Linked DNA regions of Homo sapiens: regions 2, 3, 4, 5 and 6 are each linked to region 1. Evidence: fine-mapped expression QTL. A gene starts in region 1. Each other region holds a variant in brackets. All regions are shown on one strand. Distances are between the middles of the regions.

The links. PIP is the estimated chance that this variant, and not a neighbour inherited with it, causes the effect.
Region 2: its variant is fine-mapped to the expression of ATPAF2 in whole blood (INTERVAL, PIP above 0.99).
Region 3: its variant is fine-mapped to the expression of ATPAF2 in fibroblasts (GTEx, PIP above 0.99).
Region 4: its variant is fine-mapped to the expression of ATPAF2 in sun-exposed skin (GTEx, PIP above 0.99).
Region 5: its variant is fine-mapped to the expression of ATPAF2 in whole blood (INTERVAL, PIP 0.92).
Region 6: its variant is fine-mapped to the expression of ATPAF2 in skeletal muscle (FUSION, PIP 0.93).

Annotation. Positions count from the first base shown.
Region 1 is chr17:18,036,492-18,041,574 of GRCh38, reverse strand. It overlaps ATPAF2 (ATP synthase mitochondrial F1 complex assembly factor 2), which reads left to right and starts at 2,407. Exons shown (of 8, transcript NM_145691.4): 1 at 2,407-2,694. The coding sequence starts at 2,562. It overlaps GID4 (GID complex subunit 4 homolog), which reads right to left and starts at 2,167. Exons shown (of 6, transcript NM_024052.5): 1 at 1,673-2,167. The coding sequence starts at 2,110. RefSeq lists enhancers at 1,159-1,218, 2,369-2,478, 2,619-2,668, 2,679-2,748 and silencers at 1,569-2,158, 2,169-2,258.
Region 2 is chr17:18,119,002-18,124,001 of GRCh38, reverse strand. MYO15A (myosin XVA) reads right to left here. Exons shown (of 66, transcript NM_016239.4): 2 at 1,593-5,000. Among named protein-coding and RNA genes, the nearest start is that of MYO15A, 13 kb to the right of the region's middle. The variant G/A (reference allele first, on the strand shown) is at 2,640.
Region 3 is chr17:17,980,438-17,985,520 of GRCh38, reverse strand. It overlaps DRC3 (dynein regulatory complex subunit 3), which reads right to left. Exons shown (of 14, transcript NM_031294.4): 4 at 1,577-1,693. All of the region lies in intron 2 of LOC107984989 (a long non-coding RNA gene), which reads left to right. It also overlaps the pseudogene BRI3P3. Among named protein-coding and RNA genes, the nearest start is that of DRC3, 10 kb to the right of the region's middle. RefSeq lists an enhancer at 3,965-4,465. The variant G/A (reference allele first, on the strand shown) is at 3,082.
Region 4 is chr17:18,015,594-18,020,676 of GRCh38, reverse strand. It overlaps DRC3 (dynein regulatory complex subunit 3), which reads right to left. Exons shown (of 14, transcript NM_031294.4): 13 at 4,482-4,613; 14 at 3,788-4,119. The coding sequence ends at 4,006. ATPAF2 (ATP synthase mitochondrial F1 complex assembly factor 2) reads left to right here. Exons shown (of 8, transcript NM_145691.4): 8 at 1,991-2,656. The coding sequence ends at 2,128. Among named protein-coding and RNA genes, the nearest start is that of ATPAF2, 21 kb to the left of the region's middle. RefSeq lists a silencer at 3,228-3,522. The variant G/A (reference allele first, on the strand shown) is at 1,996.
Region 5 is chr17:17,915,076-17,920,158 of GRCh38, reverse strand. All of the region lies in intron 1 of TOM1L2 (target of myb1 like 2 membrane trafficking protein), which reads left to right. Among named protein-coding and RNA genes, the nearest start is that of TOM1L2, 55 kb to the left of the region's middle. The variant G/A (reference allele first, on the strand shown) is at 2,847.
Region 6 is chr17:17,943,164-17,948,246 of GRCh38, reverse strand. The region is part of intron 1 of TOM1L2 (target of myb1 like 2 membrane trafficking protein); the gene reads left to right. Among named protein-coding and RNA genes, the nearest start is that of TOM1L2, 27 kb to the left of the region's middle. The variant A/GTA (reference allele first, on the strand shown) is at 2,980.

The DNA of each region.
Region 1 (5,083 bases):
CACATTTTAAGAAGAGGATCACTACATTAGGCATACAGTTATGAAGACAAAAATATTTCAGCCACAATCGTATTTCCATTATAATAACTATCGTGGCTCATGATAGAACTTTACAGCCCAAAGATATGATTAACATGACGATGCTGTTTCAAGTAAGCAGAGAAAATGATTTATTCCCACAAAGCAGTATGAGAATAAAAGAGTGATGAGTGCTCCGCAGTTAGCAGAAAGAAAAGGCACCCTCATTGTCTTTTGGATGGGAGACCTACTCTTCAGAAGTGAAACTAAGATTTGTTTTAAATGACCAAAAGGAGAGCTTGAGGAATAAATATACTGTACATTCCACCCTCACACCCCGGGGGGTGGGGCGGGGGGGAGGCAGTGGGGCAGCACACAGTGCCTTTCAGAGGGACAGGTGTTTGGAGGGGCTTCTGGGAACAGCCTGGCAGATGAGGTGTCAGACTAAGGAAAAAAAGGGCAAAGGGAAGGGGAAAGGGGTCCTTAGTCAGGCAGGGGTAGGTATAGAGGAGGAAGAGTTTTGTGGGGAGGGGAGATAAAAGAGTATTCACCACTGCCACTCCATTTCAGCTGGCAAAAAGTGTCAAGCCTGAGAGGAGTGAGGTGTGGGAAAGGCCCAGACAAGTGAAGCTGTACTTCCGAAGCTGATCAGGGACTGGCAGCAGGTATTCAGGAATCCAGGTCAAATGGGGGGAGGCGACTGGACATGAACTAAAATTGGGTGAGTTAGATTTCCCAGTACATGGGTACCAGAGACTAAGAGGAAGCCCTGTGCCTGTGTAGAGAAAAGTTAAGAACAGGAAAGAGGGTCCCCTGGAACCAGGATCGAGCAAGACGAAGGTATGGGGTGGGGAAGTCTGGATAGAGGCCAGGAAGACTGGGAAAAGACTGCAAATGGTCCCAGAGCAGGGGCAGGAGGCCTGGGGGTGGAGAAGCTGGAAGGAGCTGGGTGCCTGGACCATGAAGAGACAGAAGCAGTGAGTGGAACAGGGGACCCAGGAGGCAACATCCCAACAGACTGTGAGCAGCACTCAGGGAGTGAGTGCCTGGTCTTGAGGTGAGGCCAGGGCCTGACCAATCAGTTGCGGGTTAGGTGCTCCCCCGTCTGGGGGTCTGATGAAGCCCTCCTAAGGAGATCTCAGGAGGAGGAAGACCCCAAGGTCTGCGGATTCCTGGAACTGAGGAAGGGGCAGGAGGACATGTCTCAGGTCTGAGAGAATCTGACGTGGGCCCAGACATGGGGAGGGTCCCAAGTCTGGTGAAACCAATGGAGAGTTCTTCAGGGTCTGAAAAGGGCTGGTGGCAGTCCCTGATCTAGGGACGACAGGTCATGGGGAGGAAGGACCCAGGCCTTCTCCGAGTCATGAGGGGCTTCCGGATCCCAGACGGGCCGGTCACGGGCTTCAAGTCTGGGAGTGTTCGGGGTCCGCCAGGAGCCGGTCACGACGGGCTCTGGGTCCGAAGGGGCAGGTCAGGGCTGGGGCTCGGAGAGTGTGAGACACAGGCTGGGAAGGTCCCGGGTGGGAAGCGCCGGGTGCAGGAGGCCCCGGCGGCGAGGGCCTGTTCCGCGGCTGCGGGGTCGAGGAGCCGAAGCGGGCACGGCCCGTGAGCGCCGCGAGGAGGCCCTCGGGCCCCGGCCCGGCCCGGCGCTCACCTGCAGCACCACCTCTACGTCGTACGAGTTCCCCTTGCTCTTCTGGTGGCCGCGGAACTTGGAGCCGCTGTAGAGCAGGCTGGTGGCCACGCCGGGCTGCTGGGTGTTGATGGGCGGCGGCGGGATGAGTGAGGCCGCGGAGGCAGCGGAGGCACCGGCCGGCGGGGGACACTCGGTGCGGACCGGCATCGCGGGGTCCCCCGGAGCCAGGGCTGGGGGGAGTGGGAGAGGAACCGCCGCCGCCGCGCGGGAGCCGAGGAGGGTGGCGGGGAGGGAGAGGCCGGGGCGCGCACGCGCGGGGTGGGGGCGGGAGGGGCGACCACCCGCCCGCTGCCTGCGGAGCAAGCGCTCCGGCCGCCACCGGGACCCAGGGACCTGCGAGCAGGGCCTCCCAGTCCTGAGCTGGGTCCCCCTCCCGACTTGCCCTCGCGCACACATACACACACACAGACACTCACAGACACACAACACACAAACACACACAGACACACACACACCCCGCCCCTTCCGATTGGCTCAGGCGAGCCTGGGGGGCGGGAGCAGGCTCAGGCGGCGCTTCCGCCCATTGGCGGGAGGAGAAAACACGTGGCGCGGTGCGCGAGCGGCCCGCTGGGACTTGTAGTCTCCTCGCCGAGGCGCGGCGTGGAGGGGGCGGGGCGAGGTGCGTTTGTGATGCTGATTGACTGGGGGTGTGCGCAGGAGGCGCGCGGCGGCGACGGCGCGCCGTAGGTGTCATGCGGAAGATGGCGGCGTCCAAGGGAGGTTGAGGGCTCTGAGGAGGCGTTGAGAGGTTTCCGTACAGCCCGACCGTGCGGCTTTGGGGATCCCATCGCTCTGTGTTTCCTGCTCCAGGTTTCGCGTCTCGCATCTTCCCAGACCCTCGGGCGCGATGTGGAGGAGCTGCCTCCGGCTGCGGGACGGGGGACGCCGTCTCCTGAATCGGCCGGCGGGTGGCCCCAGCGCTTCTATGAGTCCGGGGCCAACCATCCCGTCTCCAGCCCGGGCTTACGCCCCGCCGACAGGTAAGACCATGACATGTTCTTTTGGGTTGGGGCCGAGCTGGGGTAAGGTGGGCTTCGGGCTTCGGCTGTGCAAAGCGAAGTAACTGAGGCAGGGTTCAGGCTCATGAGGTTATGCAGGCCAGTCAGGTCTTTTTACAGATGAGAAAGTGAAGCCCAGACAAGGGCAGACGACCCGAGAGGGAACAGCGAGTCACGCACGATACAGTAATTGATATTTGGCCTGTGCAGGTTTTCTCAAAGCTTATGGCTGCCCTCCCTTTAATAAGGAAAGCAGGTGTCATCTTTGTTTTCAAAAGGGGAAGTTTGGGCTCTGAATCAGGACTTCGTCTGGGTTACAGGCAGACTCTCTCAGAGGTTTGTGGTGTCTGTCTGACTGTTTTCCGTGTCTCCACTGCCCAACACAAGACCTGCCCAGAAGGGACCTAGAACCTGGGCCTTCATTCCTCCATCCCGGGCACTTCTGCTGCAGGTTTCCTGACTTTCCCTCCTACCACAACCTCTGCCATCTGCAGCCTTCTCTCCTAAATAGAAATTGACACCTCCACCTCTGACTGTGGAGTCACCTCCACCTCCAACTCTGATGAAGCTTAGAAGTAGTGGCTCTTTCATTGCTGATGGTGAGTGGTGTCAGGGTAAGAGTGAGAATGACTCATTTCAGTGAATGAAGAGCAGTAACACCCTCCCACCATTCAATTAGTTTTATTGTGCTGGAGGCAGGAGGCACGGTTGTCTTTAAGACCCACCTGTATGTATTGGTAGAGAAGCTCAATTAAAGAAGAAAAAGGCCCACCTGAATGATGTTCACTGTTCATTGCAAAAGGTTATAATATTCTGATTAAATTGTGGTTTATAATATCCTGATAAGGGACATACAAAGAAACTGTGAGAACACAGAGAATCGCTTACTCCCATCTTGGGGATGTTCAGGGTTTAGAATGGGTCTTGGGTGAAAGGGCGTTTGTTTAAGCTGAGCCATGATAGATGAGTAGGAGTTCAGCAAAAAGGTGGGAGAGTGTTGGGTATCTAGAACGTGTCCAGGGTGACAGCAAGGTATGAGGGACTTTTCCCTGACACTGCCTGTTTTAGAAAATCCAGAACTTCACAGGCAGTTTGGCATTGTGGCAGGAGTGCAAATCTAGGATCTGATGCTGGCTGAACCTCTGAGGTCTGTGTGATCTTGGGCATGCAACTACTTCCTCATTTTTCTCCATGCGTTGAAGTACTAGGTTGCCTTTGAGGATCTTTCTGGCTGTCAAGTTCTTTTTTTTTCTTCTTCTTCTGTTTTTTTGTGTTTTTTTGAGACGGAGTCTCCTCTGTCACAGAGGCTGGAGTGCAGTGGCACCATCTCGGCTCACTGCAACCTCCGCCTCCCAGATTCAAGCGATTTTGTGGTCTCAGCCTCCCAAGTAGGTGGGACTACAGGCGTCTGCCACCATGCCCTGCTAATTTTTGTATTTTTAGTAGAGATGGGGTTTATATTGACTAGGCTGGTCTCGAACTCCTGACTTTGTGACCCGCCCACCTCGGCCTCCCAAAGTGCTGGGATTACAGGCGTGAGCCACCGCGCCCAGCCAAGTTCTATAACTTTATAGAAATGGGGAAGGGGGCTGGATGCAGCAGGGAGCTGAAGTTTCACCTGCAGGACTCAGGGGAAGGGCCTGGAAATGGGCCATGAAGGGCCAGTAAAGAAGAGAAAGGAAGGGCATCCCAGGGAGGCATAGCAAAGGGGACACATTCAGGAGTTCACCAAGTTGGCAAAAAGCAAAGGGTTAATTAATTTATTTATTTACGTATTTATTTATTTATTTTGAGATGGAGTTTTACACTTGTCACCCAGGCTGGCATGCAATGGTGTGATCTTGGCTCACTGCAACCTCTACCTCCCAGATTCAAGCAATTCTCCTGCCTCAGCCTCCCAAGTAGCTGGGATTACAGGTGTCCGCCACCACACGTGGCTAATTTTGTATTTTTAGTAGAGATGGGGTTTCACCATGTTGGCCACACTGGTCATGAACTCCTGACCTCAGGTGATCCTCCCGCCTCAGCCTCCCAAATGCTGGGATTACAGGCGTGAGCCACCATGCCTGACCACAAAGGGTTAATTTAGATTTGTGGATGCTCACTTTACATAATGGTGGCACTTGATCTACTGCCTTCTTTTCCTTTTTAAAAAGCCTAAACTTACTAGTTAGGCTCTTGGAAGTACCTGGCACATGGTAGGTAGTCAAATGTGAAAGAAAATAGGAATGAATGAATGAGAAGGGAGGTGCATAAATCAGGCCCATGCATGCTTTTTTTTTTTTTTGAGACAGAGTCTTGCACTGTCACCCAGGCTGGAGTGCAGTGGCGCAATCTTGGCTCACTGTAAGCTCCGCCTCCCGGGTTCACG
Region 2 (5,000 bases), 82 kb before region 1:
CACTCAATGGCATTTACAGCTCATACAACTCCCAGGCACACAGGTGTTCCTGTAGGCCTGTGGGCACATACGCAGGCCTGTGGGGCCCGGCTGGAGGCACACGGTGTGCAGGCACATGCTCTACCTGTCCACTTGGCACATACATGTGGGCGCACAGCTGGGTCCCTCCCTATGCTGGGGGTCTGGTGAATGGAAGTCCTGATGCCACCTTTGGGCTGCAGGGTCTCCTCTGTGAGCACACGTCTGTGCACATGGGCAGAGGGTGGGCAAACAACCCTGACCCCCAGGGATGCCACATCTGCTCAGACCCCATACACTAGCTTTCGTCATTTGGCTGTGGTACACACTTGCACACATGCTCAGGCATGCAGGCCTGCGCAGGATCCACATGACTGGGAGCACACACGTGTACACCCTCAGCCTTTCCAATCCCAGCTGCACCCTGAGCAGGCGAGGAAAGAGGACACCAGGAAGGAACCCTGCATGCCTGTCGCTGGACTGCTAAGTAGGGCACAGCGAGTATCACCCTTTCGGCCCTGGCCTCCGGCCCACCCATCTGCCCACGTGCTTGCCAGCAGCCGCAGACCCTGAATAATTCAGCCACTCACGTATTCCAGGGTAAGGAGGACCCAGGCATCCTTGCCCCTCACCCCTAGACGCCCTGCGCCCCGCTCCCGCAACGCTGCAGCCCACACAGCGCGGGGCATCCGCCGCCGGGGCCAGGGCCCCCTCAGCAGCCAGGCTGCCCCGGTTGCCATTGTTGGGCCCGGCTGGCTGCCTGCTCCGCCAGGCATGGTCTGCAGAGGCTGAGACGCACCTGCTGCCCCTGCTTGCCCCGCCCACCACCCCGGCATCCTGAGAGAGGCTCCGGTGACCACGCACCTCAGCCAAGGGCCACCCAGCATCAGGCTCGAGTTCCACCTTGAGTGTGGCAGCCAGGCATGGGCTGGGCACCCATCCGAAGGGCTGCCTACCCTGCACCCCTCATGGGGTTCCAGAAGGACTCCTGGTTCAGTTTTCCCTCTGTGCAATGAGGAGTCTGGAAGTTTGGATCCTGAGCCCCTCACCCTGACCTATTCCAGAATCCTGCAGCCCAGGGGACTTCAAAGGGCAGCAAAAACCCTGAGGAAACAGGAGGCTTTAATTTGGGGGAGGGTCAGTAGGAGGCAGGAGGAACTGCAGAGACCTGGATGTGCGGTGGAACAGGATGGATAGGCATGTCCGGCAGTTTCACATCTGGCTTGGCCAAAATCTCTGAGGGGAAGTTAGGGGCCAGACCTGTCATCCAGATTGGATCAGGGCAGGGCTGCCCAGGGCCCAAGCCGAATATGAACAAAGATCCTTCCCCAGAGTGACCTGGAAGCAGTTTCCCACGTCTCTGTCCTGGGCCTGCCTGTGCTGGGCATCCCCTTGTTCAACCCTCCAGAGGTTCTGGGAGGTCCAGGCTGTTCTCCCCAACTTACAGACCCAGAGACTGAGGCCCCAGCAAGCAGCCTCTCTCCAAGGTTGCACAGGGCTCCTCAGGCTGTCTCTCTTGCCCTGTTTCCTAGGCCAGAACCCTCAAACCCTCCGTGTAATCTGTGCCTCCATACCTTGTTCCGCCAGCTTGGCGGGCCGACCTCCTCCCAGGAGCCCCTAAGGGACAGGCAGGCAGCTCCAGGGCCCAGGTGGCAGGACTGGGGATGGGTGTGTACTCGTGGCCAGGGTCCATAGGCATCTGCCCGAAGCCAGAGGCAGGACCAGCGAAGACTACAGGCTCTTGGCTTGGGGTCCTGAATGGGCTGGACTTGAGGCTTCAGGGTTGCAGGCCCAACTCGCTGGAAAGAGCTCAGCTTCTGCACACGAGGCATGACCACAGCAAAACGCCCAGGGGCTGCCTGGCGCCGTTCACCCCCCTTGGGCAGGGGCTCTGGGGCCCTGATGGGCGCCAAGGGGGCTGCGGCTTGGGGCAGTGTTCCCCAGCGGTGCCATGGTGGCCATGTGGCCCTGGTCTGGTCACACGCAGCCAGTGGGTATGAGAGGCTGGGCCTTAATGTCTTTTGCTCTGGGAGGACATCCTTGGGGGGAGTGATATCCTTGGGGGGAGTGACATCCTTGGGAGGTGCTGGGGTTGGAGGCTTGGTCTCTGCTGGCAGCTGGGGGTCCCCCAGGGTGGCCTCTTCTTCAGGCTTCTCAGGGGTTGGGCCAGCTGATTTGGTGAGCTGTCCAGGCCCCGGCTCATGGTGTCTGCCCAGGAAGACCCTGGTCATATCAGCAGCTGGATCCTCAGGCTGGAGGGTGGGGGATGGCACAGGGCCCAGGAGCTGGAGAAAGGGGTTTTCCGGCACAGGGGGTGGCCTGGAAAAGCCTCGGCGGCTGCCTGCACCTCCTGGCCAGGGGGAGGGTGGGCGTTGGGTGGGAGGCATGTCCACGTCCCAGCTGGGGGCCAGTGGGGGCACAGTCCAGGGCGTCTCTGAGTCCTCGGGTTCTCGCGGGCTCTCCCGGTGTTCCAGGGGCGCCCGCCAGGCCCCGGCCCTGGGCGGTCGGTGGAAGGGCAGGCGCACTTGCGGCTTCACAGCCCGAGTGGGTGGCTCGCTGAGGCGCCGCCACGTGTGCGGGAGGCGCGAGGGCAGATTCAGGGAGCTGCGCCGCGGGCTGTG[G/A]CAGAGCCCCAGGGGCGGCGAGGGCGGCCTGGGTGAGCCCGGCAGCGGCGAGCCGGGTGGGCCCAGGCGCCCAGCGGCTCGGCGTGGGGCTGGGGACTCCTGCAGCGAGCGGGGCCGGCGGGCCGGGGGCAGGAAGGGCGGCTGGAAGGGGCCCGTGCGCAAGGACAGCTGAGGCGACGGGGGCGCCAAGGGTGAGCAGTAGCCGAGGCCCGGCGAGCTCCTCAGCGAGGGCTGGGGCGAGGCCAGCGGTGACCAAGCTCGCCTCCGCGACGCCCGTGGAGAGGCCCCGGGGAAGCCGAAAGCCGCCCCTCTCCGGCGGGAGCCCCTGAACGAGGGTCGGGGCCCTGGGAAGGCTAGTAGGTCGGGGGGCACCTCCGGGCTCACGGCAGGGGGCTCCACGAAGGCCCACCAGCTGGCCTGCGGCGCCGGTGGCACGTGCGCTGGGGCGGCCCAGGGCGGCGGGTGGCGGCGGAGGGAGCCGTAGGGCGAGGCCGGCCGGGGCAGGCCCGAGAGCGCCGGGGAGAGCGGCGGCGCGGGCGGGGGCCCGGAGCTTGGGGGCCGCGGGGGCACGGGCGGAGACAGGAGCGCGCTCCAGTGGGAGAGGGTCCTGGGCGCGGGCTGTGGCGCGGGCGGGCGGCGCGCGTCGTTGCTGCTGCGAGCGCGTGGCTGGGCCCTCCTCAGCACGATGGGCGTGCCGGGCTTCTCGGGGTCCATGCCAGCCAGCTTGTAGCCGAAGCGTTTGTAGGCCGCCTCCCTGACAGCAGGGCCGCCCGCCCGGGCCTTCTGGCTGCCCCTGAGCCGCGCGATGGGCTTCTTCTCCGACAGCGTCTTCTTGAGGAACCGCGCAAGCGAGGTGGCAGGGCGAGGCACGGGGCGGCCAAACTCAGGGCCGAAGCCCAGGCCCCGGTGGGCGCCGAAGGCCGACAGCGCGCGCTGGAGGTTGCGCTGGCGCGGCGTGAGGAAGCCCCAGAAAGGGTGGCCGTAGGGCACAGCGGAAACCGGGGGCAGCTCCTCCTCGTCCTCTTCTTCGTCCGCATCCCCCAAGGGGAGAGGAATGTCCAGAGAGGGTGGCAGGGGCACCTCCAGCTTCTCCTTCCCAAACAGCTTCACCTGGGGTCGCGGGAAGAGGCGGAACTTGCGGATGAGGGACAGCTTGGACCTGGCGGGCTTATCCATGCCTTGCTGCTCGAAGAAGGCGGCGCTGGGCAGGCGGAAGGAGGTCCCCTGACGCTCTACGCCCGCGTCCTCTGGTTCCTCCAGCTCGGCGATGTCATCCATGGCGTGGGCATACGGGTTGTGGGGCGACGGGATGGGCGGTGGTACCCAGGGGTACACAAAGGCCGAAGCCGACTCCTCCGGGTAAAAATAGGGCACCTCGGGGGGGTAGATGGCCTCGTCCCCACCGCCATAGACGCCTTCGGCATAGGGGACGGTGTAGTGGACTCCGTAGGGATCAAAGTAGGGTACATCGTAGGGAGTGTGGTATGGGAGGTCATAGGGTGGGTATGGCGCGTCGTACGGCGCATAGGGATCCAGGTAGTAGCCATAAGGGTGCGCCTCGCCCTCGTACCCATCGTGGTAGCTGTAAGGAGACGAGTACCCCGACGGGGGCGCATATGGGGGTTCGTAATCGTCGTAGCCGTAGCCGTAGGTGTACCCCGGATCAAAGGGGCCACCGTAATAGTCGGGGTGGTAGTAGTCGTAGGGATCCTCGGGCGGGTACCCGTAGTAGTGGTCGCCGTAGGGTGGCCAGGCCGGGCTGTAGGGGCCGAGGCCCGCCAGGTAGGGTTCCTGCTCCTCGTAGCGGTGGAGTGACTGCCGGTCGTAGTAGTCGTCGCCGTCGCGGTGATAGTCATAATACTCGCCCAGGTCCTGGAAGCCCTCAAGCCCGTACAGCGACTTGCGGGAGCCCGAGTGATGGAATGGGGCCTCGTCCTCGAAGGGCAGGAAGCCCAGGGGCTCGCCTGACGCGTAGATGCTGCGGCTGCGGGGGAACCTCCGGAGCCGGCCCCCAGGCCGCAGGATCTCGGCACCCGACGGGAAGGGGAGTTTGCGGGAGCCCATGCGGGAGCTCGAGCGCTGCAGCCAGGCGTCCACTGTGGCCTGTTCGCTGCCCGACTCCTCGGCCTTCTTGAGGAGGAACTTTTTTGTGAGCCAGTTGATGGCCGTGGACGCTTTGCTGAGTGACCGGGCGCGCGGCCGCAGGCGGCCGTAGCCACGGCGGCCTGGGAAGCGGATCACCATGAAGGACGGCTTCTTGCCCTTCATCGCCCGCTTCTTCTTGCCCATGCGCATCTGCGTCATGAGCTTTGACGTGGACTTGAGCACGGTGCGGGCCTTCCTCTTGCGCTTGGTCTTCTG
Region 3 (5,083 bases), 56 kb after region 1:
ACCTCCCTAACCCCCATCCTCAGCACCCCAGGGATCCAGCTCTTCTGGCTGTGGTTGGGTCCCTGGGCACCTAGTGCCATGGCTGGACAAAGACCAGCTTCTGCCTATACTCTGAGGGGCAGTGTGACCTCTTAACAGAGCCTGCCCTCACTGCTCTAGCACCCCCATCCCAGGGAGCACTGGCCATCAGTCCAATGACCCTTGGAAGCGTGGATGGCCACTGCAAGGGGTTGGGGGAATGAGCTGACTAGGAAGTGTGTGTGCAGGGGCTCCAAGTAGTAGGAAAATAAGCTTCTGTTAGGGAGGGAACCAAGACCAGTATTCAGGTTTCTCTCTGGGTAAGCAGACAGAAAGAGGGAGCTGTCATGGGGCTCAGTGGTACTTGCTTTATGTCTGAGAGACAGCCAGGCCAGAGAGCTCCTGCTTAAAACCATGGCATTCATGAATCAGCATTAATGGGTGCTAGAGTGCAGAGAAATGAGAAACCTGGGACAAGAGACCTGGGCCCAGGTGTGAGAGGACCTGGCTGTGGTTTGCTCCTGCTACCTGTAGCACATGACTCCATCAAGCTGGTCAGCCTCCCTGAGCCTCAGTTGCTGCATGTGTGAAATGGCAGCATAACCCTGCCTGTGGGTTTGCTATGGGCTTGCAATTGTCAGCACAAAGGAGGATGGGAGTGTTTGGCAAATTGGAAGGCTCACGATGCCCCAGGGTGCCCTTATTACCAGAAGACCGCCTAATAGGATGGAGGGAATGTGGGCTGTGAGGTCAGACAGGCGTGGGGGTGAGTCCCAGCTCTGATACTTCTTGGTCGTGCAGCTTTGGGCAAGTGCCTGGGGCTCCCTGAGTCTCAGCTCCTCTTCTGTAGATTGGGATTATAACAGATGCCCAACTCTTAGGATTAAAATGGGGGTTAAACAAGACAGGGCATAAGGAGCTCTCAGGCCCATCACCTTCTCCCTGCTAGGGACCCATTGCCCCTCACCAGATGTGAGGATGCTCCTAAGAGGCCAGCAGAAGGAACATCTCATCAAAACCCTCCATGGCCTTGGCAGTGAGACCTGATGTGGTGTGGTGACCTCAGTTTGCTCATCTCTATGACGGGGATGCTGTGTGAACTGAAAGACCCATATGGAAAGCATATAGGCCCCACTTAGCATGTAGTTAAGTGCTTGATACACACTAGCCTCTGTGACGATTATTCCTGGTTTCATCTGGGTCCCACCAGCCAATGGTTACCTGTCGATGGTTATCTGTCAGCCTGAGTCTAGATTAAATAGGAGTCCACAGCTGCCCCTTTGTACCCCATCCAGACTGAAAGTTTGGGCAGATGAGAGCAGAATATTCTGTGGTCTTGTGTCTGAGCACATCTTTGCTGCACTTTGCCCAGCACAAGCCCTAGGCTTTTAAAAAATAGCAGCTTTCTTGCTCCCAGCAGGCAGAGCTTCTGCCGTACCCTGGCTAATGATGGGCCAGCAGCTGAGTGTCGCACACAATTATTGTCTCCTGGGAAGGCAATAACCTTGTCAGGGTGTCACCTTCGATTAGGGTGGACACACAGAGGAAAGGGCCTTACCCAGCCAGACCAGGTGTGCGAGGTTCTCCAGGCCCTCGATCTTCTCAATGATGTTATTGTCCAGCTGCAGCTTCCTCAAGTTCTCAAACTGCCAGAGGTTGTCTATGCGGAGGATGTCTGAAATAATGGAAGGTGATTTCAGTCTCAGGTTAGGGTCAGAGTTTTGTGCTAGTGTACAGGAGGAGTGAGGCAGAACCACACAAAAGGGACCTAGAACTCTTCTGCCCTGCCCTGGAGTACGCAGGCACCCTGGAGATGTCGGCTGAGCATCGAGGAACATTGTGTCCCTATGAGGTGGGCGGGGATCGGTACTGCCACCCAGAGCCACAGAAAGACCTAATAGGTTTACTAGGGTGGAGCTAAAAAGTTGCTGGGGTGGAAGTGAGCTGGACCTGGCTGGGCAGGAGACTCGCTTGTGCTGTTTCTGGGGCCAGGCCAGGGACTCTCCAGGAGGCTGGTCCACCTTAGGACACAGGACACAGACAGAGGCCTTCCTTCCACAGTGTGATAAATAGAATGAAAACATGTGTCTCTGTTGGTAGGAGGGTTGATTGCCTCATTCAGCCTTTTTGGAGCACTGTTTGGCAATGTTTTTTGAAATATTTAAAGTCAGTGCCCTTTGAACTATAATTTCTCTACATGGAATCTATCTCCACACTGTATATATGTCCAAAGGAATCCCTCAGGCACGTAAGGGGCAGAAAAGCTCCCAAATGTCCATACGTAGGGGATGAGATAAGTCATCCATGCAAGAACGAGGCAGGTTCCTGATATCACGGAAGTGCCTGGCCCCTGTGGCCTGTGAGGACCACCCACGCCAGCTACACAGCTGGTTCATTCTGTTTGCTAGGTAAGCCAGAGTTTGGTTTCTGTCACTGGCAGCCAGGAGAGTTCTGAAAAACACATATGTATAAGTAAATATGTACTGTATATGTAACACTCTAGAGGCCAAACTTGTCTGCCAGGTTTTCCCAGAAGCCACGTACAGCTCTGTTGTTTATATGCTCCTTTTTTCCATATTTGCTTTTGTAATGATTTCTAAAATTTATAAAATTAGAATATGCTCATTAAGGATGGGCGCAGTGGCTCACGCCTGTAATCACAGCACTTTGGGAGGCCGAGGCGGGCGGATCACAAGTTCAAGAGATCGAGACCATCCTGGCCAATGTGGTGAAACCCTGTCTCTGCTAAAGATACAAAAAATTGGCTGGGCGTGGTGGTGCACGTCTGTAGTCCCAGCTACTTGGGAGGCTGAGGCAGGAGAATCGCTTGAACCAGGGAGGCAGAGGTTGCAGTGAGCCAAGATCGCGCCACTGCAATCCAGGTGACAGAGCGAGACTCCATCTCAAAAAAAAAAAAAAAAAGAATATGCTCATTAAAAGAACTGAAATAATACAGAAGTGAAAGAAGTTTTCAAAATTGGTGCTGTGGGCCAGGCGTGGTGGCTCACGCCTGTAATCCCAGCACTTTGGGAGGCCAAGGTAGGCAGATCAGGAGGTGAGGAG[G/A]TGGAGACCATCCTGGCTAACACAGTGAAACCCTGTCTCTCCTAAAAACACAAAAAATTAGCTGGGCGTGGTGGCGGGCACCTGTAGTCCCAGCTACTCGGGAGGCTGAGGCAGGAGAATGGCGTGAACCCAGGAGGCGGAGCTTTCAGTGAGCCGAGATTGCGCCACTGAACTCCAGCCTGGGCGACAGAGCGAGACTCCATCTCAAAAAAAAAAAAAAAGAGATGGAGACCATCCTGGCCAACATGGTGAAACCCTGTCTCTACTAAAAATACAAAAATTAGTTGGGCGTGGTGACACGCGCTTGTAATCCCAGCTACTCTGGAGGCTGAGGCAGGAGAATCGCTTGAACCCAGGAGGCAGAGGTTGCAGTGAGCCTAGATTACGCCACTGAACTCCAGCCTGGATGACAGAGTGAGACTGTTTAAAAAAAAAAAAAAATTTGGTCCTGTGGCTGGGCATGGTGGCACACACCTGTAATCCCAGCACTTTGGGAGGCCAAGGCCGGTGGATTGCTTGAGACCAGGAGTTTGAGACCAGCCTGGCCAACATGGAAAAACACTGTCTCTATAATAAAAATACAAAAATTAGCTGGTGTCCCTGTAGTCCCAGCTACTCAGGAGGCTGAGGCAGCAGAATCACTTGAACCCAGGAGGCAGAGATGCAGTGAGCCAAGATCATGCCACTGCACTGCAGCCTGGGTGACAAAGCAAGACTCTGTCTCTAAATAAATAAATAAATAAAAAAAAATAAAAATCGGTGCTGAGGCATTGTGCCTCAGAGGAGCCTGAGCCAGCCAGTCTGCTGCATCCCTGCCACGTCCCCCACTGTGTCCCCTGCCAGGACCGACTGACCTGAGCCGGGCTGCCATGGACCACACGCCCCTGCTGTGGGAGTGGCTGCCCACCTACAACCTAGGGGCCGGCCAGGGCAACTATGCATGCAGCTTGCATGGCTACAGCGTCATCCCTGCTGCCCATCCCTTGCTGCTGCCCGCCCTCCCCTTACCTCATCACAGGGATACCCAACCACCACCCCAGGGTCTACAATGACCACAGCTGGACTATCACTTGGTACCCTGCCAATGCCATCGCCATCATGAGAGGCTGTCCCGTCTGCAGGGATAGGGTGCTGGAGGACTGCTTCACCTTCCTGGGAATCCTCCTGGCCATCATCCTGTTCCCCTTTGGGTTCATCTGCTGTTTTTCCTGGAGGAAGCAAAGATGCCCCAACTGCAGAGCAGCCTTTGCTTAAAGGGAACTTACACCTGGCTTTTCTACACCCAGCTCTCTTTTTCTAATGTACAATAGTTTTATTTGATTAAGCTTCAGGACTGTTTTGTAAAGTGAGGTGCGACAGATGTGGCACGCGGGAGCCAGGGTTTCCTGGAGCGTGGAGAGGCAGCGCTGCTGCTCCTGAGGTTAATGAGAACTCAGTAAAGCACTGCTTTTATTTTTTGCAGTCTTCAATTTGAGAAAGGTGAAATATAATGTTTTCAATAAATGAGATTCATGCCAAAAAAATAAAAAATACAAATACAAATTAGTGGCTAGGTGCGGTGGCTCACACGTGTAATCCCAGCACTTTGGGAGGCCGAGGTGGGCAGATCACGAGGTCAAGAGATCGAGACCATCTTGGCCAACATGGTGAAACCCCGTCTCTACTAAAAATACAGAAATTCACTGGGTGTGGTGGTGTACACCTGTAGTCCCAGCTACTCTGGAGGCTGAGGCAAGAGAATCACTTGAACCCGGGAGGTGAAGGTTGCAGTGAGCCTAGATCGTGCCACTGCACTCTAGCCTGGCGACAGAGTGAGACTCCATCTCAAAAAAAAAAAAAAAAAAATGCTGGGCGCAGTGGCTCATACCTATAATCCTAGCACTTTGGGAGCCTGAGGCAGGCAGATTGCCTGAGCTCAGGAGTTCGAAACCAGCCTGGGCAACATGGTGAAACCCCATCTCTACTAAAATAAAAAAAATTAGCCAGGCGTGGCCGCATATGC
Region 4 (5,083 bases), 21 kb after region 1:
TAAGATAATAACAATAAAAAAATAACAGTAAGTGCTACCGCTGTGTTCCTGCATTGTATCCATCTCACCTCCTCTCAGCAGCCTGGGCAGGTAGGAGCTGTGGTTATCTCTGTTTTACACAGAAGGAAATGGAGGTGCAAGGTTGCACCTCTGGAAAATGTGCCAGCTGGGGTTTGAAGCCAGGTCTGGTGATTTTAGGGCCAAGGCCGTCAGGCCTCACTCTGCACAAGGAGGTTCACGGGTGGATAAAGACCATCTGGGCTTGATAAAGCCTGCAGAACAGGCCCTGCCAAGATGACTGAGAACCCGTTTGTGCTCCTTCATCAGCTGAGCCTTCATACCCTGACATTTTATCTGGCTGGCAGAGGAGCATAGGGGTAGCTGCTGTTTGTATACAAGTTTTGATTTAGTGGGCTCAGAATTAAGGTTTTGCCACAGTATGGTTTGCATTTTTTAACTCTGAAAATTATAGCCATCTTTGCAGTCTTTTTATTGTTATTCCACCAACCTCAGAAGGTTAATTGCTATTATGAATTGGTCCCTAATATGGTAAAAACAAACAAACAAAAAAACACAAAACTTTTTGTGATGTATTTCCCTAGTTCTTGTAGTCTTCTGCTCAGAAAAATGCCAGGGAAAAAACTATTTTTGTATAACAAAGGAGGCCCGCTACTATTCTCTGGATGTCAGAACTGATTACATAGGAAGGGGGTGACTTGTAGGGCTGGTGGGAAGCCAGTCTGGGCTCTGCTTCTGACTATGGGACCCAAGCCAGGCCATCATTCTCTGAACTTTGGTTTCGATCCTCTACAAACAGAGGAATAACCTGAATTATGTATGTGATGGTATACAATGAAAGTATGGAATACTCTTCAGATGACATATTACAATTGTACAGTTTGGGACCAGGCAGCCCAGAAGTTCAAATAGCTTGTGTAGCATGGTGGATTCTGAGTTCCTGGATGAGCTGGGGCGGCCAGGCCAGGCCTCTTGGGCAACTAGCCAGGGAGGAGCCAGCAAGGTTTGGTTGGACTTACACTGTCTGGACAGCCACATCGTGTGTCTGAGCGTTCCTCCCTCTTGTTTTTAGAGCTCCAGACAGAGAATCTGCAACTTGTCCCCAGTGTGCAGAGCAGAGGCATCTGTAGTTCTGTGACTACCACAAGAGTCAGAGTTGAAGCCACTGCGTGGCCTTACTTGATTTAGTTATTCCACCCACATGGCGCTGGGGGGCACTTGTAGCCCAGCATGGCAAGGCAACTTGGAGAGGCTGTCCATTCACAGGCTTTCTGGGAGGAAGTGTAGGAGAAGGGATGGCACATAAGGCCTCCTCAAAGAAGTCACATGGGTGGTTCTGGTACCCAGCCTGCCCAGTGGTGGGTGGGCAGCCACTGGCCCTGGGCCTGGGCCTGGACTGCACTTCTTCCAGACCATCCATGCCACAGAGAGCACAGGTGCCTGCTCCGGCTCCCTGGGGGTGGGGTGGTGGGGTGTGTGTGTGTGTGTGTGTGTGTGTGTGTGTGTGTGTGGTGTTTTTGAGACAGGGTCTTGCTCTGTTGCCCAAGTGGGAGTGCAGCGGTGTGATCTTGGCTTACTGCAGCTTCAGCCTCCTGGGCTCAAAGCAGTCCTCCTACCTCAGTCTCTCAAATAGCTGGGACTACAGGTGCACCCCCACCACACCCAGCTAATTTTTAAACCTTTTTGTAGAGGCGAGGTTGCACCATATTTGCCCAGGCTGGTCTTGAACTCCTGGATTCAAGCAGTCTTCCTGCCTCGGTCTCCCAGAGTGCTGGGATTACAGGCGTGAGCCACCGTGTCTGGCGTACCTGGGTGTTCTTACCTGCCACCTCCCCCTAGGCATGTCTCATGTGTTTTGGCAAGATACAAACCTGTTGCCCTCAGCCAACCTATTGGAATGGAACGTGGCTTTGGTCAGGAGGCAGCCAGGCACTGGCCACTCACCCAGCAACTTGTCTTGTCCTTCCCTCAGATCCA[G/A]AAGTGGGGCAACATTGAGTGGGCCCATGACTATGAGCTGCAGGAGCTGCGGGCCCGCACCGCCGCCGGCACCCTCTTCATCCATCTCTGCTCCGAGAGCACCACAGTCAAGCACAAGCTCCTGAAGGAGTGAGGCCTGGGCAGAGCACACTCAGCAGGATAGAGGCAGTGCAGCCACAGCTCCCCCGGCCTTCAGGGCTCCCCAGCCTGTGGGGCTGGCTTCCTTGGCTTTTGGGGACTCGGCCTCAGCGTCACCCTGAGATTCCCCCCGAGACACAGTGCGCTAGTACGGCTGTCCGGAGGTCAGCCTGATTTCAACCCAGGTGCCCCTGGCCTGGCCAGCAGTGAATGTAGGAGATGAATTGTGCAAGTGACTTTCTCTCGACTCTGATTTTATTAAATATTTCTCCACCCTGGAAATGTGCTGAGCCCTGTTTTCACGTATGCCTCTGCACTTCTCCATTCTTCCTGTTTTGTCTAGGTTCCAGAGGGTTAAACAGCTTATCTCCCATGGCGTGTTTGGATATCTGCTGCCTGTGGTCAGGAACCTTGCACTGGGGAAACAATCATGTAATCCACAGACAACTCTATTTGTGTTCTTCAGCCTCAGCCTGAAGGCTTTTTTTTGGCTGGCTTTTAATCAAACAATCTTTTGAAACAATTGTGGTCTAAGCTGGTTGTTTCTATTTGTTCCTACTGTTCTAAAACAAATGATTTACTCTAGAAAGTAGAAAATAGAAGTTGTTTCTGGGCTAAAAGCCTGGACAGGCTTGACAAGGTCACCTGATGTGCATGTTTCCGCTCATCTCCCACCCAGGAGTCCTAAGGGTCCTCCTGACATAGCCACCTCTAGTGTCCCAGGAGGCAGGCGCTACTTTCTGGTGTCAGGCCAGTAAGAGGGCAGGGGGGAAGAGTGGTTCTCAGGCAGACAGGCTCTCTCAGCCCTGTGTCCTTGCCAGCCTGAGTAAGGTAATGGCATCAACCCTGCTCACAGGGCACTGATCGCATGCTGGGTGCCTCTCCACGCTTCCCATGCACTGTCTCCCTGAACTGTTCCTCGAAGGCACTGTGAGGTACTGTCACAGATGACACCAGGGCTGCGGGGGTGACATGGTGGAGCTGGGATGCCCTGCCTGCACTCTGCTCTTCTGGAGGGTCCTCAGGTCCTTGTGGCTAACCTCAGCCTTGGTGGGCAGGCCCAGGCCCCAGCACTGTGGTGGGAGCTGCAGCCTCTCCTCCTGCTTCCCTGCCCCTCAGCACCCAGAGCAGAGAAGGTCTTAGCCCACACCGGCCTCCTTTTGCCTGTGGCTGGCAGCCTGCCTAGGCATGGCAGGGGAAACGGCAGGGGCACGTGTCTGACTTTATGCCACAGCCAAGAATCTAGCTGATGGCAGTGCCCTTGGGAGTTGCTCTGTCAGCTGGCCTGGGACCGGCTGTTCATCTCAAACTCTTTCTCTTGTTCCTACATGAACATTTTTTTTTTTTTTTTTTTTTTTTTTTTTTTTTTTTTGAGACGAAGTCTCGCTCTGTCGCCCAGGCTGGAGTGCAGTGGTGCGATCTTGGCTCACTGCAACCTCCGCCTCCCAGGTTCAAGTGATTCTCCTGCCTCAGCCTCCTGAGTAGCTGGGATTACAGGTGCACGCTACCACATCTGGCTAATTTTTGTATTTTTAGTAGAGACAAGGTTTCACCATGTTGGTCAGGCTGGTCTCGAACTCCTGACCTCGTGATCTGCATGCCTCGGCCTCCCAAAGTGCTGGGATTACAGACGTGAACCACCGCACCCAGCTGATTTTTTTTTTTTTTTTATGAGTAGGGGAAATGTGAAATGAGTCCTTTATTTTCTCTACTTTTGGAAGTTTTTCCAGGGGTGGGGGAAGAATGGTGTTGGGGATCGCGGTTGAGAGATGCCCAGCAACTCTCTAGAGGTGCGGGTGAGGCGTGTGCACTTCCTTCTCCTGGCTGGGGCTGGTGCTATGTTTTGAAGAAGCTCCTGTGGCTGACATTCATCTAGTCTAGGATGTCGCCACATTCCAGGTTGTCCAGTTCGCTCTGCATGTGGTCGATGTACTGATTGATCTCCTTCACGCGCTTGCGGTTCCTCATGATCTCATCCTTGTGAATCTGAGGAGTGAAACCAAAGCCCGATTCCTTACATCAGATCATTGGTTAATATCTTTCACTGAATCCAGTTTGAGGGAAGGGGAAAATAGTTCCTTTAGATCTGCAAACCTCATTTGCTTCAGCGCCTCCCCAGGTTCTGCTGATCTCTGTATATTTGAGGTAGGAATTAGGAAAATGATGAAGCCCATGGGTTTTAAAGTCTCTGGGCAATGTTGTCTTCAGTGTGGAATTCTATAATCCTTAATTTTATTTCTTCCTTCATTTCATTCCTTAATGAAAATTCTATCCACTACCTAGGGAGGATTTCCATGTCAGCTAGAAAAGTTCATCCAGCCTGCTAGGATGGCTTGGGATTGACTCACCCTGTCTATTAAACGTGTACACCAAGAGTTGATTCTGGTCACCAGCTCATCTTCTCGATTGTCAATCTTCAGGAGGTGGATGTCGTGCGATGCCCCGACAGCATTAACAATCGTATCTTTATCGACAAAAAGCTGGTGAGTGAAAAGAATCCAATGAGAAAGTGTGTGTCATTATACCGTGAACACAAAGGGAGCTGAACAGAGAAGGAGCATTTGGAAGTCCCCTGGCTGTGCAGGCCACACTCAGAGCAGAGCCCACCTTTGTATCAGCGCACTCTGCCGATTCATCTGTGAATTCATCTGTGACAGCCGCTTCCCCAACTGCACAGGGCAGGTGTTGTGGGGAAAGGGCCAACCAGGGTGTTACTTTGCAGTCCCCGCTGGAAGCATGTTTCCTCCAGGGTGAAGGCAGATGGCTGCCCAGGGGGCACCTCACCCAGGACATCTGTTCTCACAATGCTTCTCTCTCAATTACTCTCAAGTCTAACTTGCCCAAAACCTCTGCCTGCTGGGTGGAAGCATGAGGCTGGCTGAGGGTCTCGAGGCTGCTCTGAAGACAGCAGGCCCTACAAACTCATGGGTGTTCACCCCACAGTTGTCTC
Region 5 (5,083 bases), 120 kb after region 1:
CTTTTACACTTAAGACTTCACCTAAAAATCAGGAGGGTCTTTAGACTTCACCTAAAAATCAGGAGGGTGGGCTGCATCCAATACTCTGGACCGTCTATTGTGGAGGCCAGGGTCTTCTTTGCCTCTGTGACCCTCTACCTGAGGATGGATCAGGGTCCAAGGCCAGGCTTACCAGGAAGACCTGGGTCATGTGGTTGGCAGTATTGCTACCTCCTCTCTGCACACTGTGGGGCTAGTCACCCCACCAGGCTTCATTTTCTTCCTATTAGAGAGAGAGAACCTTCCTGGCGGCTGGGGCGTGGGATGGTAGGGTTAAATGAGGTAATGTCTGTCAAGAACCTGGCTCAAACCAAATAAACAGGTTTTCATTCTCTCTTCTGTTTCTCCATTTTTTTGGTGAAAAGAATGAGAGCCATTTCCTTGAAGACTTGAGACCAGTGGTTCAATGGTAGCTTTAAGGGCAAGAAACTGCCCATAGGGAACTTGCAACAACACCGTGGCCCCTCCTCCCCCATGCCCCACTTCCTGGGGTCCAGGAAATGTGGACTTATGGGGAATCTTTTTACTAGATGGTCTCTAAGACCTCTTGGAGTTTTAATGCTTGGATTCTTAAGGAAATTGTGGTGTGCCTGCTCCTTTACCCTACAGGTGGGGCAAGCCAAGTTTGGGGGCTTCCTTCTGGAAGCATGGAGGTCTTCCTGGCTCAGTAACCCAGAAATCCAGAAAGCTAGAGCTCCCAGGGTTTTGAATCTGATGGGTGTAGCTTGTGGATGGCTGTTTACCTGTAGGTGGCAGTGGTGACACGGGAATGGGAGAGGAGGGGGGTGCAAGGGGAGGGCACTGGCAGAGCTCCTTTCAGAAGAGCTGTAATAAAGTTAGAAGTAACAGCAAGGAAAGGTCCTCTGTATTAGAGGCTCTGTCAGGTGTTTTCTGTATTATTTAGTCTCCTCTAACAGCCACTGTGTGAGAGAGTGCTGTTATTGCAGCATTTTGCAGCAGTCCAAAAGGCTTGGAGAGGTCAAGTTATTGCCTGTAGTCACACAGTAATTGGCAGAACTAGAACTCACCAAAATCTGAGTTCACACTCCCTGTTCTAGACTCCATTATAATGCACATTTCTCCTGCTTCTAAGTCTGAAGGGAGAACCGGGGACAGCTGGGAACCGAGCTCTCATCTCACCAGACTGCCCAGTGCCTGTCACCTGGGGGCCTCAGAAGGGTTTATAATCATCATTTTACTTATAAAGGGCCCTCATCAGCATAAAGCCAGGCCTTCTTGACATGAAGATGTCCTGCCTCCAAGCAGCTTCCAGTTTAGGTTGGGGTTGGGGGCCAAGAAGATACTTAACGGCTCATTAAGCCGGTAAGATTTGAAAAAGTTCTCAGAACATTAGAATGGTCTTGAAGGCTCAGTCCTTGTGTGAACTGTACTATCAGGTGCTGGAGCCCATCAGAGGGCCTCTCTTGTGGGCGGCAGCAAAGAAGGTTCTGGAGAGGACGTTGGATGGGAGCTAGATATGGGCAGATAGGCTGGAGAGAAGGCTTTCCAGACAGAAGTCTGAGGTGACTTTCTCAGGGCTTGCAAAGACCTGCAGATCCTGTTATGGTTCCTGTTTTCACCCTCTTGCAATTTTTTATGGAATAAGGACTCAAATGGGTCTTCTCTTCAGCTTTGTTTGCTCTCATGGTGTATGACTGTGTTTTGTAAAAATATATATAGGCGCAACGATGCTGCCTTTCACCACTTCTATTCAACATGGTATTGGAAATTGTAGCCAGAGCAGTTAGGGAAGAAAAAGAAATAAAAGGCATCTCAATGGGAAAGGAAGGAGTAAAATTATCTCTGTTCCCTGATGACATGACTTTACATGTAGAAAACCTTGAAGATACCACAAAACAAAAAAAAAAAGAAAAACTGCTAGAGCGAATAACATAAATTTACCAAAGCTGCAGGATACAAAATCAACATTCAAAAATCAGTTGTGTTTCTGTTAATATACATTAACAATGAACAATCTGAAAAGAAAAGAAAACAATTCCATTTACACTAGCCTCTAAAAAAATAAAATACCTAGGAATTAACCAAGGCAGCAAAAAATTGTGCACCGAAAACTATAAAACGTTGCTGAAAGAAATTAAAGAAGAAAGAAGACATAAATATATGGAAAAACATCCTGTGTTCATAGATGGGAAGACAGTTTTTTTTTAAGGCAGCCTCATTGTGTTGCCCAGGTTGGAGTGCAGTGGCTCAATTACGGCTCAGTGCAGCCTTGACCTCCCGGGCTCAAGTCATCCTCCCACCTTAGCCTCCTGAGTAGATGAAATGACAGGTGTAAGCCACCACTCCTGGCTAATTTTTAAATTTTTTGTAGGGATGGGGTCTCCTTATGTTGCCCAGGCTGTTCTTAAACTCCTGAGCTCAAGCAGTCTTCCCACCTTGGCCTCCCAAAGTGATGGGATTTACAGGCATGAGCTGGCCTGGGAAGCTAATATTTTTAAGATGACAACACTACCCAAAGTGATCTACAGATGTAATGAAATCCCAGTTAAAATTGCAATGAAGCCAGGCATGGTGGCATGCACATGTATTCCCAGCTACTTGGAAGGCTAAGATGGGAGGATTGCTTGAGCCCAGGAGTTTGAGTCCAGACTGGGCAACATAGCAAGACCCTGTCTCTGAAAAAAAAAAAAAAAAAAAAAAAAAAAAAAGACCAATGGTATTTTTTTCAGAAATAGAAAAATCCATCCTAAAATTCACATGAAATCTCAAGGGACCCCAAATAGCCAAACAACCTTTAATTTTTATTTATTTTTATTTATTTTTTTGAGATGGGGTCTTGCTCTGTC[G/A]CCCAGGCTGGAGTGCAGTGATGTGATTTTGGCTCATTTTGCAACCTCTGCCTCCCAGGTTCGAGTGATTCTCCTGGCTCAGCCTCCCAAGCACCTGGGACAACAGGTGTGCGCCACCACGCCCAGCTAATTTTTTAAATTTTTTAATTTTTTTAGATGGAGTTTCACTCTGTCTCCCAGGCTGGAGTGCAGTGGCGTGATCTCGGCTCATTGCAACCTCTGCCTGCTGAGTTCAAGTGACTCTCCTGCCTCAGCCTCCGGAGTAGCTGGGACTATAGGTGTGTGCCCCTGCGCCCAGCTAATTTATGTATTTTTAGTAGAGATGGGGTTTCACCATGTTGGTTGGCCAGGATGGTCTCAATCTCTTGACCTCGTGATCCACCTGCCTCGGCCTCCCAAAATGCTGGGATTACAGGTGTGAGCCACTGTGCCTGGCTAATTTTTGTATTTTTAGTAGAGACAGGGTTTCACTGTGTTGACCAGACTGGTGTCAAACTCCTAACCTCATGAGATCCACTCACCTCGGCCTCCCAAAGTATCGGGATTACAGGCGTGAGCCACTGCGCCTGGCCCTAAACAACCTTTAAAAAGAACAAAGTTGGAGGACTCACACTTCCTGATTTCAAAACTTACTTCAAAACTATAATAATCACAACATCATGGTATTGGAATAAGGAAAGACACATGGACCAATGGAATAAAGTAGAGAACTCAGAAATAAACTCTCCCGTATATGGTCAATTGATTTTCAGCAAGGGTGCCAAAAGTATTTAGAGGGGAAAGGACAGTCTTTTCAACAAATGGTGCTGGGAAAACTGAATATCCACATGCAAAAGAGTGAAGTCGGACCATTATCTTATACCATATGCAAAAATGAACCCCAAACAGACCAAAGACCTAAACATAAGAGCGAAGGGAAAACTATAAAAATCTTAAAATAGGCCGGGCGCGGTGATTCATGCCTGTAATCCCAGCACTTTGGGAGGCCAAGGCAGGCAGATCACGAGGTCAGGAGATCGAGACCATCCTGGCTAACACAGTGAAACCCCGTCTCTACTAAAAATACAAAAAATTAGCCTGGCATAGTGGTGGGCGCCTGTAGTCTCAGCTACTCAGGAGGCTGAGGCAGGAGAAGGGCGTGAACCCAGGAGGTAGAGCTTGCAGTGAGCTGAGATCGCGCCACTGCACTCCAGCCTGGGTGACAGCGCAAGACTCCATCTCAAAAAAAAAAAAAAAAATCTTAAAAAGGGGAAATCATGACATTGGATTTAGCAAAGATTTCTGAGATATGGTACCAAAACCACAGGCAACAAAAGAAAAAATAGATAAATGGGACAATCAAAATTTAAAACTTTTGTGCATTAAAAGATACAATCAAGAGAGTGAAAAGACAACCATAAAATAGGCGGGATTAATATTCAGAATATATAAAGAACTCTTACAGCTTAACAACCAAAAAAAAAAAAAAAAACCTACTCAGTTTAAAAATGGAGCCAAGCATTGTGGCTCATGCCTGTGATCCTAGTACTTTGGGGGGCCAAGGCAAGAGGATCACTTGAGGCCAGGCGTTCAAGATCAGCCTGGGTAACATAGCAAGACCCCATCTCTACATAAATTTTTTTAAAGAAAATTATCTAGTTGTGGTGGTGCATCCCTGAAGTCCCAGCTACTTGGGAGGCTGAGGTGGGAGGATTGCTTGAGACCAGGATTTCAAGGTTGCAATGAGCTATGCTGCTATGATTGGGCCACTGCACTCCATTCTAGGTGACAAAGTGAGATCCTGTCTCTTAAAAAAAAGGGGTGAGGGGCCAAAAAAATTGAATAGATATGTCTCCAAAGAAGATATACAAATGGCCAAAAAGCACATGAAAAAATGCTCAACATCAGTAGTCATTAGAGAAATACAAAACAAAACCACACTGGGATACCACTTCACACCTGGTAAGCCAGGATCCCATCATTGAATTGGTGGTACCAATATTTGATCCTAGTTCTGTCTCTAAAGCCTGGATGTTTGCATGATATAGTCTCACCTGCTAGCAAAGCCTGAGTTTGGATCTGAAGTTAATATCTTGGAGGAATTCTGAAACTACCCCATCCTAACTCTCAATTCATGAAAGGATACCATCACCACTATTTTAATAAAAGTTTAATACAATCCACACTTCGCCGATACTCAGATAATAACATAGAAGACCTCTGTACAGGCTGGAAGTATCCTTGTTTTACTGGATGCA
Region 6 (5,083 bases), 93 kb after region 1:
ATCTTGGTATCAAGATTATCCAGTACAGCAAGTCTCAGTGAAAGGTTGATAAACAGAATTTAGTACACTTGGTCTTTCAAAATGAAACTATTTGACTAAGGAACTTAATGAAAGACAAACATTGTATCATGATACAGTCATTTAATGTCTCTGAGCCTTAGTTTCCTCAATTATGACTAATATATATCTCTTAGAATTGTTTAATGTTCAAATTGGATAATGCATGTAAAGCACTTGACTCATTAATTTTCTTTTCCTCCATCAAAAGTATTTCTGAAATGAGTGGATTCTGAATTTGGACTGTAACCAGGTATATTCTGGAAAGAGTATATATTTAAAAAAAAATAGAACAAAGATTTTTCTTTATTTTAACAGTGTGACCCCTCATGCTACCAAAAGAAATTAAAAATGAATACAACTTGTTGTACTTTCTGGAAAGAACAAAATCTTCAAAATCAGACTTCACTTTGAGTCCCAGCTCCAGTAACCTCTTTGAGCCTGAGCTTCCTCATCTGTAAAATGAGGATAGAAGTCCTATTTTTAAAAGTATGTGTCGGGGCATTAAATGAGACGTTTGCTAGGGCTACCATAACAAAATACCACAGACTGGAAGGCTTAACCGAACTTATTTTCTCATAGTTCTGGAGGCTGAAAATCCAAGATCAAGCTGCAGGTTTGGCTTCTTCAGAAGCCTCTTTCCGTGGCTTGCCAACAGCTACTGTCTTGCTGTGTCCTCACATGGTCATTCCTCTGTGCATGCATGATTGGATTAGGGCCCCATTTTAACTTAATCACTTCTTTAAAGACCCTGTCTCCAAATTCAATCAGTCATATTGTGAGGTACTGGTGCTTAGGGCTTCAACATGAGAACTTGAGGATGGCACAATTTAGCCTACAATATTTGCAAAACAGAAAGCTCACTGGCCTGGGCACGGTGGCTCATGTCTATAATCCCAGCACTTTGGGAGGCTGAGGCAGCAGGATCACTTGAGCCCAGGAGTTCAAGACCAGCATGGGCAATATAGTGAGACCCCCCCACCGTATAAAACTGAAAAGCTCACTGGATGGTAGTAGCTCTTCCTATTTAAATCCCAGTTCTAGTGTTCTTTCCTGTTCCTTGCTGAAGATTGTATTTACTGTGTGGGATTGTCCTGAGGGCTGGTATAACTAGTTAGTACTTTCCTAACCCTGAGGCACTTCTGTTAAAATTAGATCAACACTTAGGCTGGCACGGTGGCGTACGCCTGTAATCCCAGCACTTTGGGAGGCTGAGGAGGGCTGATCACTTGAGGTCAGGAGCTCGAGACCAGCCTGGCCAACGTGGTAAAACTCCATTTCTACTAAAAATACAAAAATTAGCCAGGCGTGGTGGCACATCCCTGTAGTCCCAGCTGCTTGGGAGGCTGAGGCAGGAGAATGGCTTGAACCCAGGAGGCAGAGGTTGCAGTGAGCCAAGATTGTGCCATTGCGCTCCAGCCTGGGCGATAGAGTGAGACTCTGTCTTAAAAAAAAAAATTAGATCAATACTTAGACCAATATAATGAGCTGATGTTTAGAGAGCAAAACAGGCCTCCTGCAGCCTCTGCACCCATGAGCCTAGCTTAGGGTCAGTAACTTGTGGTTTAGCAAAAAACAGACTTAACTTTATAATGTTAGCAAAGGATTAAGTTTTAAATATATCAGAATCGAGATGGGAAAGAAACCTAACAAAGTGCTAATAAAAAATAGAATTGGGTAAAAATATTATGTTTCATGAAAGAAGCCAGACACAAACAGCTATATATTGTATGATTGCATTTATAAGAAATGTTCAGAATAGACACATCTATATAGAGAAAAGGCAGATTAGTGGTTGTAGGAGGCTGGGAGAGGGGGAATGGGAAGTGACTGCTAACAGGTACAGGATTTATTTTTAGGATGATGAATATATTCTAGAGTTACATAGTGGTGATGGTTGCACAACTCTGTGAATATATGTACTAATGCCACTGAATTGTACACTTCAAGAGGGTAGATTTCATGGTATGTAAATTATATCTCAATAAAGCTCTTATACAAAATTGAATTACGGCAGGGTGCGGTGGTTTATTCCTATAATCCCAGCACTTTCGGAGGCTGAGGCAGGCAGATTGCTGGAGCCCAGGGGTTGGAGACCAGCCTGGTCTCCAACATGATGAAACCCCGTCTTACCAAAAAATATGAAAAATTTAGCCAGGCAGGCGTGATGGTGCACCCCAGTAGTCCCAGCTACTCATGAGGCTGAGGTGGGAGGATCACCTGAGCCCGGGAGGTTGAGACTGCAGTGAGCCATGATTGTGCCACTGCACTCCAGCCTGGGTGACACTGAGACCTTGTCTCAAAAATAGACATCTTTTTTAAAAAATAAAAAAAGAAAAAAGATTGAATTAGGGTGGTGGCAGACTTATGTGACTAGCTTTTCTTCTTTTTTCTTCCAGTTTTCTATAATTACTTTTTCTCTTTTTTTAAATGGAAAGAGTCCTACATTTCATTAAGATACTTAAGATCCAGTTTTATGTGGTGCTGAATTATAGCTATGCAGAGAAAGTCTCCGTGAAATATTAAGGTCACTTTTGCTCACAAAATATCAATGATTAACTAAGATGTATAGGCTGTAAATAGAGAGAAGATGGGTATGTATGTGATAAGGAAGTTTAATGAAGTTTCATCCTATGTAATGTGGGTCTCCCTAAGAGAGGGTCTATCTTTTCATCAATAGCAGATCTGTGGTCTGTATTGTCTGATGAAGTCCACCTGGTATTGCACATTGAAATCCATGTTTGTTTTGATGTATAAGTGTTCTCTCAGAGAACAGCTACTTCCCAGTTTGACACTGTTTTCAATCCAGTGCCAATGCCAAGAGATTTCTGAGCCATATATATATTTTTAATGTAAGTTAAATAATTCATCAAGGAATGAGAGAGAGAGAGAGAGAGAGTGTGTGTGTGTGTGTGTGTGTGT[A/GTA]TGTGTGTGTGTGGTGAAACATTTGGCTCTTTCCACCTAATTTTTAACCTTGTTGGTCCTACTGGCAATCTGTTTCTTAGCTAATGACTGCATAAAATCATCTCTGAAAAGAAAGCTAAAGACTTTTGCATTACCTTTTGCCAGTTTCTGCTTTAAATCCACCCTTTGGTATTTGCAAAGGTCAGATGAGCTATTTTGGTGTCCACGGCCCTGATTAATGGGAAATCCTACATTTCCATTGGCCCCGGAGGATGAAGGATTAGTGTGGCGGCGGCAGTGCGGGCAGCATCTGCTGCAATGTCAGGAGTACGGTGTTGGGAATTGCAGGAGCATCCGGCCTATGAAAAATGGAGGAGGAGGGGAGCTCCACTAGTACTAGCCCCAGATGAGTTTTTCTCCATTGCCATCAGGCAGACATCTCTGGGAGCATTTGTTCTCCTCTGTTAGGCCTTGTCGCTAAGCATTTAATATGGAGAGCACAAGTGCGGACCTCCTGTTTCCCCGCCGGAAGGCTTCCATAGCTCCCTGTTAGTCGGCATGTTTGTGTTCAGCTTTTCACCTCTCCTTGTAGGAGACGTTGGTTTTATACTATGTTAAATAAAAATCATTGTGTTAGCTCATAGATTTTCACAAGAGAAGCAGGTGCCTGGTGCTTTGGGGAGAATAACTCCAAATATGGGAATCTCTTTCCCCACCCAAGAGCAGATGGTCTGCGTTAGTTTGTCTTGTGACCTTTCTTTGCTTCTAAGACACCAAATCTCTGATCCCACGGATCATAAATATTCTTTAGGTTTGCAGCCATGGAGGTGAAGGGAGCGTCAAGCTGTCGGTGTCATTTTCCATTTGTCTGGAACCTTTCAAAGAAACTGTTACAGCATTTTTAGGCACTGAATTAGCCTCCTGCAGCCGTGAGCTTACAGACTCATGAAGGGCACCGCAGCAAGGCTGCCTCAGCCAAGGTCAGGAAGGAGCCCTCTGCTCAGCATCCCTTTGCTCAGCATCCTGCCGTCCTCACCTGTCCACTCACCAGGCAGCCTCTCACGGCAGCCACTTTGTGCCAGGCACCATGATGGCTTGCACAACCCCTGCCTGCCTATCCGGGGGCTGCATTATTTATGTCGCTAGTAGTGTTAATAAGCACCTTGTATTGATCACCTTGTCTGCTGCCTCTCCCTGCCCTAGAGCCCACCTTCTCATCCAGAGGAAGACCCTCAAGTGCAGTGTGGGGGTGCTCTGATAATGTAGCAGCATGCACTGAGAGGGGCAGAGTAAGGACTGCCTTCACAAAGGAGGTGACATCTGAGCTGCTCTCTGGTAGGAGTTTACCTGGAGGGGGAGGGATGTGCAAGGAAGAGAGAACATTGGAGAAAAGGGGCCTGTATGTTTGTGGCAGCTAGACCTTGGGCTCTGGATGTTCACGTGGGGCCCTGGCAAGGGGTAGGAAGTGGAAGTCAGGGCTGGTTAGAGATAGTCACCCTGAGGATCAGGTTGAGGAGTGTAGACCTTATCTGAAGTGAAGTGGGGAGATCTGGGAGGTTTTTAATACTTAGGGGGAAGATGAGATCAGATTTTCTGTTTGGTGCAGACCACCTGGGGCAGTGTGGAGTGTAGACTATGGAAAGAGAGAGTGGAGGAAGTGATAACAATGAGGAGGCTGCAGCAGCAATCCCCAAGAGAGATCTGGAGGCAGCTCAGCCTTCGGGCTCCCCTTTCCATGCATTTGCACTGGCTGCTCCTTCTCTCCTTTGCCTTCACATTCCTACATTCTCTTTTGGATCATCCACATTCTCTCCATACCCAAGTGTTGTTACCTTGCTGAGGCCTTTTCTGCACTCTCCAGGCAGCAGGATTCAGCCCTCTGTCGCACCCCAGCAGCAGGCTGGTCTGCCACTATCTGACCCCTATAGAGACTGCTTTGCCTTCCTAACTCCCTAGCTCTAATTAGCAGCACTTTGGACCCATATCAAGATGGAAAGAAGAAAGGGTTTTTTAAAGTGACTGTTACAGTGGATTGGAGAGGACTCAGAATTTGGGGACAGAACATACCCCAGTTTGAGACCTGCTTCTGCCTTATGCTTTCTCCAGGAGATGAAGTATTTTTTTA